Regions from separate parts of the Homo sapiens genome. Here region 1 is linked to region 2. Evidence: fine-mapped expression QTL. A gene starts in region 2. The other region holds a variant in brackets. All regions are shown on one strand. Distances are from middle to middle. Region 1 has its middle 9.5 kb from the start of PRSS36. Region 2 holds the start of PRSS8 (serine protease 8).

What was found.
Region 1: its variant is fine-mapped to the expression of PRSS8 in nasal epithelium (TOPMed, PIP 0.92).

The regions. Positions count from the first base shown.
Region 1 is chr16:31,158,135-31,161,039 of GRCh38, reverse strand. No RefSeq gene overlaps it. Among named protein-coding and RNA genes, the nearest start is that of PRSS36, 9.5 kb to the right of the region's middle. The variant G/A (reference allele first, on the strand shown) is at 1,187.
Region 2 is chr16:31,134,392-31,137,296 of GRCh38, reverse strand. PRSS8 (serine protease 8) reads left to right here and starts at 1,570. Exons shown (of 6, transcript NM_002773.5): 1 at 1,570-1,883; 2 at 2,126-2,143. The coding sequence starts at 1,799. RefSeq lists an enhancer at 2,509-2,905.

The DNA.
Region 1 (2,905 bases), 24 kb before region 2:
CCTGACCTCAGATGATCACCCACCTCAGCCTCCCAAACTGTTGGGATTACAGGCGTGAGCCACCACGCCTGTCCGTGTCCCTGTGTGTTTGATTAAACTAATCTCAATGGGTTTTCATTATCTAAACAGCTTCCCCTCTCATACGCATTCTCGTTTCAGATGTTCAGAATTCAGAAAATACAAACAACCTGCAGGAGAAATGGCTGCTCAGCTTGAGTACCTGAGGTCCTGCAACACCCCACCTCCTTTGTTTTCCAGAGGGGTTCAGAAAGCTCGCTGTGCTCAGGCCTCCAAGTCAGGGCCATAAGCCTTGTTGCCTCCAGCCATGACTCAAAAACCTCGCCCTCACCCCCATCCCATCCTGACCTCCTCTCTTGCCCCCAAGAGCTCTCCCGGACCCCATACAGTTTATGCAGGAGCACCCCAAAACTGCTCCCCTCAGAAGCAGGAGGACGTCTCTCTCCCAGCAATGAGCTGCCACCTCCTCAGACTCCAACTCGGATTGTTCTCTCTGTGTCTCAGGAACCACCCTCCAAATTGCATACAATGGCCAGGCACGGTGGCTCATGCCTGTCATCCCAGCACTTTGGGAGGCTGAGGCAGGTGGATAACCTGAGCTCAATAGTTCAAGACCAGCCTGGCCAACATAGTGAAACCCCGTCTCTACTAAAAATACAAAAATTAGGGCCAGGCACGGTGGCTCACACCTGTAATCCCAGCGCTTTGGGAGGCCAAGGTGGGCGGATCACCTGAGGTTGGGAGTTCGAGACCAACCTGGCCAACATGGAGAACCCCTGTCTCTGCTAAAAAATACAAAATTAGCTGGGCGTGGTGGCACATGCCTGTAATCCCAGCTACTCGGGAGGCTGGGGCAAGAATCACTTGAACCCGGGAGGCAGAGGTTGCGGTGAGCTGAGATCATGCCATTGCACTCCAGCCTGGGCGACACAGCGAGACTCCATCTCAAAAAAAAAAAAAAATTCTATACAGTGCATCTCACAAAGTGAGGTCCCTTTGAAGTAGGGCAACTCATTTGAGGCTAAAGCGCTGAGTCCTGGGGCAATCTCTGGCTCCGACAGGCTCAGGGTACCAGCATGGTCCCTGGAGACCAAGAGGTGGGTGGGGAGGTGGGGGCAGAGTCTGGGAGTGAAATTGAAGGAGCAGTTACTCTTCTTGCCACGAGAGG[G/A]AGCACCAAGGGGATGTCTTGATCATATCAGTCAAGCGTGGAGTCAACACACAACATGTTCCCAATTTTATCAAGTCTCTCAAATATTCCCACTCAGAGGGTCCCTCATAGAATAACATTCTAACTCCAAGTTTTTTCTGAGAACAAGTTATTTCTGGCCAGGCGAAGTGGCTCATGTTTGTAATCCCAACACTTTGGGAGGCCAAGGCGGGCAGATCTCCTGAGGTCAGGAGTTCAAGACCAGCCTGGCCAACAGGGTGAAACCCCGTCTCTAAAATACAAAATTGTAAAATACAATTTTGTATTTAAAATACAATACTCTATCGTATTTAAAATACTCCAGAATACAAAATTGTAAAAATACAAAATTAGCTGGGAGTGGTGGTATACACCTGTAATCCCAGCTACTGGGGAGGCTGAGGCAGGAAAATCACTTGAACCCAGGAGGTGGAGGTTGCAGTGAGCCAAGATCGTGCCATTGCACTCTAGCCTGGGCAACAAGAGCAAAACTCCGTCTCAAAAAAAAAAAAAGTTATTTCTTCCAAGCAGATATGCAACAATATAGTGACTTAGCAAGATAATATTATGGAATAGGGAACAGGGTTGCCAGGTTTAGCAAAAAATTTTATTTTACTCCTTTTTTATTTTACAAAAAAATTTTGTACAAACGGGGTCTATGTTACGTTGCCCAGGCTGGTCTCGAACTCCTAGACTCAAGTAATCCTCACACCTCAGCCTCCTGAAGTGCTGGGATTATAGGCATGAGCCACCACTCCCAACCAGATTTAGCAAATAAAATAAGTGCCCGATTAAATCTGAATTTCAGGTAAACACAAATAATTTTTTTTTAAGACAGGGTCTTGCTCTGTCACCCAGGCTGGAATGCAATGGTGCAATCATAGCTCACTGCAGTTTCGAACTCCTGGTCTCAAGTGATCCTCCTGCCTCAGCCTCCCAGACCACTGGGATTACAGACGTGAGCCCTGTGCCTATTGGAAACACAAATAATTTTTTTTTGAGATAGGGTCTGGTTCTGTTGCCCAGGCAGGAGTGCAGTGGCATGGCTCACTGCAACCTCTGCCTCCTGGGCTCAAGCCATCCTCCCACCTCAGCCTCCCAAGTAGCTCCCAAGTGCACACCACCACATCCAGCTATTTTTTTTTTTTTTTGAGACGGAGTCTCGCTCTGTCACCCAGGCTGGAATGCAGGGGCGCTATCTCAGCTCACTGCAAGCTCTGCCTCCTGGGTTCGCGACATTCTCCTGCCTCAGCCTCCCGAGTAACTGGGACTACAGGTGCCCGCCACCATGCCCGGCTAATTTTTTTGTATTTTCTTTTTAGCAGAGACGGGGTTTCACTGTGTTAGCCAGGATGGTCTCAATCTCCTGACCTCGTGATCCGCCCGCCTCAGCCTCCCAAAGTGCTGGGACCACAGGCTTGAGCCACCACGCCTGGCCCACATCCAGCTAATTTTTTAAAAAACTCTTTGTAGAGATGGGGTCTCACTATATTGCCCAGGCTGATCTTAAACTCCTGAGCTCAAGCAGTCCACCTGCCTCAGCCTCCCAAAGTGCTGGGATTACAGGTGTGAGCCACTTCACTTGGCCCGACAAATAATTTTCAATATAACTCAAGTATTTCCTGAGACCTAGTTATAGTAAAAAAAAAAAAAATCGTTTATCTCAAATTCAGACTGAGCTAAGTATTCTGTATTTTAGCA
Region 2 (2,905 bases):
TGGCGCAATATCTCGGCTCACTGCAACCTCCACCTCCTGGGTTCAAGCGATTCTCCTGCCTCAGCCTCCTGAGTAGCTGGAATTACAGGTGCGTGCTACCACGCCTGGCTAATTTTTGTATTTTTAGTAGAAATGGGGTTTCACCATGTTGTTCAGGATGGTCTCAAACTCCTGACCTCGTGATTCGTGTGCCTTGGCCTCCCAAAGTGCCGAGATTAGAGGCGTGAGCCACCACACCCAGCCTCAACAGGTGTTTTGAACGGCCAGAGTGGCCCTCAAGGAGGATACATGCCTCACTCCCACCGCAGCCACACGGCAAGCCTTCTTTCCCTGAGCCTCTGCCCTCTGCACCCCATCCCCCCATCTTCGCCTTACCACCTTTTATAATCCCTTTCGGTCTCAGTTTCCAAGGCAATTCCTCGAGGACCCTTTCACAATGCCAGCCTTTGCCAGGCTGTGGTGTGCTCACGCCATTCTTTTTCATCACTATTCCTAGCTTGAAATTATTGTGTAATTGCAATTTTTTTTTTTAAGACAGGGTCTCCCTCTGTTGCCCAGGCTGGAGTGCAGTGGCGTGATCATAGCTCAATGCTTCGTTGAACTCCTGGGCTCAAGCAATCCTCCTGCCTCAGCCTCCCAAATAGCTGGAACCATAGGCATGCGCCACAATGCCTGCCTAATTTTTATATTTCTTTGTAGAGATGAGGCCTCGCTATATTCCCCAGGCTGGTCTGGAACTCCTGGCTTCAAGTGATGCTCCAGCCTCAGCCTCCCAAAGCCGACTAGCCACCTTGCCAGCCTGTTTGTGATTATTTGATTGAAGTGTGTCACCCCTACTTCACCATGAGCTCAGGGCTCAAGGGGGACGGGGCTGGTGCCTGTTTTGTCCTGGACACCTGGGAACATCATAGGCACTTAGGAAATGTCTGTGGGATGATTGGTGCTGCTCCACAAGCTCGCCACCACCCATGAGGTGCAGGCATCGCAGAAAGGGCCTGGCAGGGGACAGACCATAGTGTCTTAAGCTCCCATAACCAGCCTAAGGAGGGAGGGAAGAAGGGAGGAGTGGCTGTGGCTCCAGATAATAAAAGCTGGGGCCAGGCCCTGGGGGGCATAACTGGCCTGAGATAACCTGAAAGACCTGAGGCGGAGGAGAGTCGTCACATTCCAGGGAGACTGCACACACACACAAACCACATGCACGTGCATGCACGCACACTCAGACACACACACTACACACACAGGGACACACACAGCCTACACATGTGCACATACAGCCTGTACATGCACACACACACACATACCACACCACATAAGAGGACACACACAGCCTACACAGGCATACACACACACCACATACACACTACACACCGGGACACACACACAAAAGGCCTATGCATGTGCACACACATACACACGGACACATACATGCACACACACGGGCCTGCAGCTCTGAAAGGACTCATGACTTTGGTGGCAAGAGGAGCTGGCGGAGCCCAGCCAGTGGGCGGGGCCAGGGGAGGGGCGGGCAGGTAGGTGCAGCCACTCCTGGGAGGACCCTGCGTGGCCAGACGGTGCTGGTGACTCGTCCACACTGCTCGCTTCGGATACTCCAGGCGTCTCCCGTTGCGGCCGCTCCCTGCCTTAGAGGCCAGCCTTGGACACTTGCTGCCCCTTTCCAGCCCGGATTCTGGGATCCTTCCCTCTGAGCCAACATCTGGGTCCTGCCTTCGACACCACCCCAAGGCTTCCTACCTTGCGTGCCTGGAGTCTGCCCCAGGGGCCCTTGTCCTGGGCCATGGCCCAGAAGGGGGTCCTGGGGCCTGGGCAGCTGGGGGCTGTGGCCATTCTGCTCTATCTTGGATTACTCCGGTCGGGGACAGGTAAGTGAGGACGTGGGGGCAGGGTGGGGACAATGCACTGGAGGGAGCCGGCGTGATCATTTTCTGGGGTGTGCCCTTGTCTGGGGCCCAAGAAAACCCCCGGCCTCCCTAGCTCTTGGCCTCTCTTTCCCACCTTGGCTCTGTCAGGGAAGGGGCCAGCCCTCTGGAGCAGTGGTGGGTACTAAGGGGTCAGGGAACCCGAGTCTTCCCTACTCACCCCTCCTCTTTCTCTTTCTTTCTAGGAGCGGAAGGGGCAGAAGGTGAGACTTTCCTCGGAGAGGGAGGAGGGGAGGGGGAGGTGACTTGGATCGGATTCCCCTGGGGTTTAACCAGTGCCTGGCCTTCAGCTGGGCTGCCTTCCAACTAGATTCTCTTAGGGCTCCCAGAGTGGGGGGTTTTAGCCCTCACCTTATGGGCAGAGAAGCAGGGACTTGCCCAGGGCACACTGCCAGTGAAGGTGCAGCTGGGATTCAGATCCACGTCTGACTCCCAAAGTGGGGCAATCGAGGTGGTTTTTTTGGTTTGGTTTTTGTCTTTTGAAACAGGGTCTGGGTCTGTCGTCACCCAGGCTGGAGTGCAGTGGCCCGATCGCAGCTCACTGCAGTCTCAGTGATCCAGCCTCCCGGGCTCACGTGATCCTCCCACCTCCCCACCTCAGCCTCCCTAGTGGCTGGGACTACAGGTGCATGCCATCACACCCAGCTAGTTGTGTTTTGTTTTTGTTTTTGTTTTTGTTTGGTAGAGATGTGGGTCTCACTATGTTGGCCGGGCAGGTCTTGAACTCCTGGGCTCAAGCGATCCTCCTGCCTTGGCCTCTCAAAGTGCTGGGATTACAGGTGTGAGCCACCGTTCCCATCCTGGAGGTGGTTTTGAGGGAACCAAACCAAGGGTCTCCTTTCTTGGAAGGCACCCAACCCAGCTCTGAGTCAGACCGGCTTTCAATCCTGGCTTCCCCATGCACTGGCTGTGTGTCATTGGCCAAGTCCCCCCACTTCTCTAAGCCTTAGACTCCTCACCTCTAA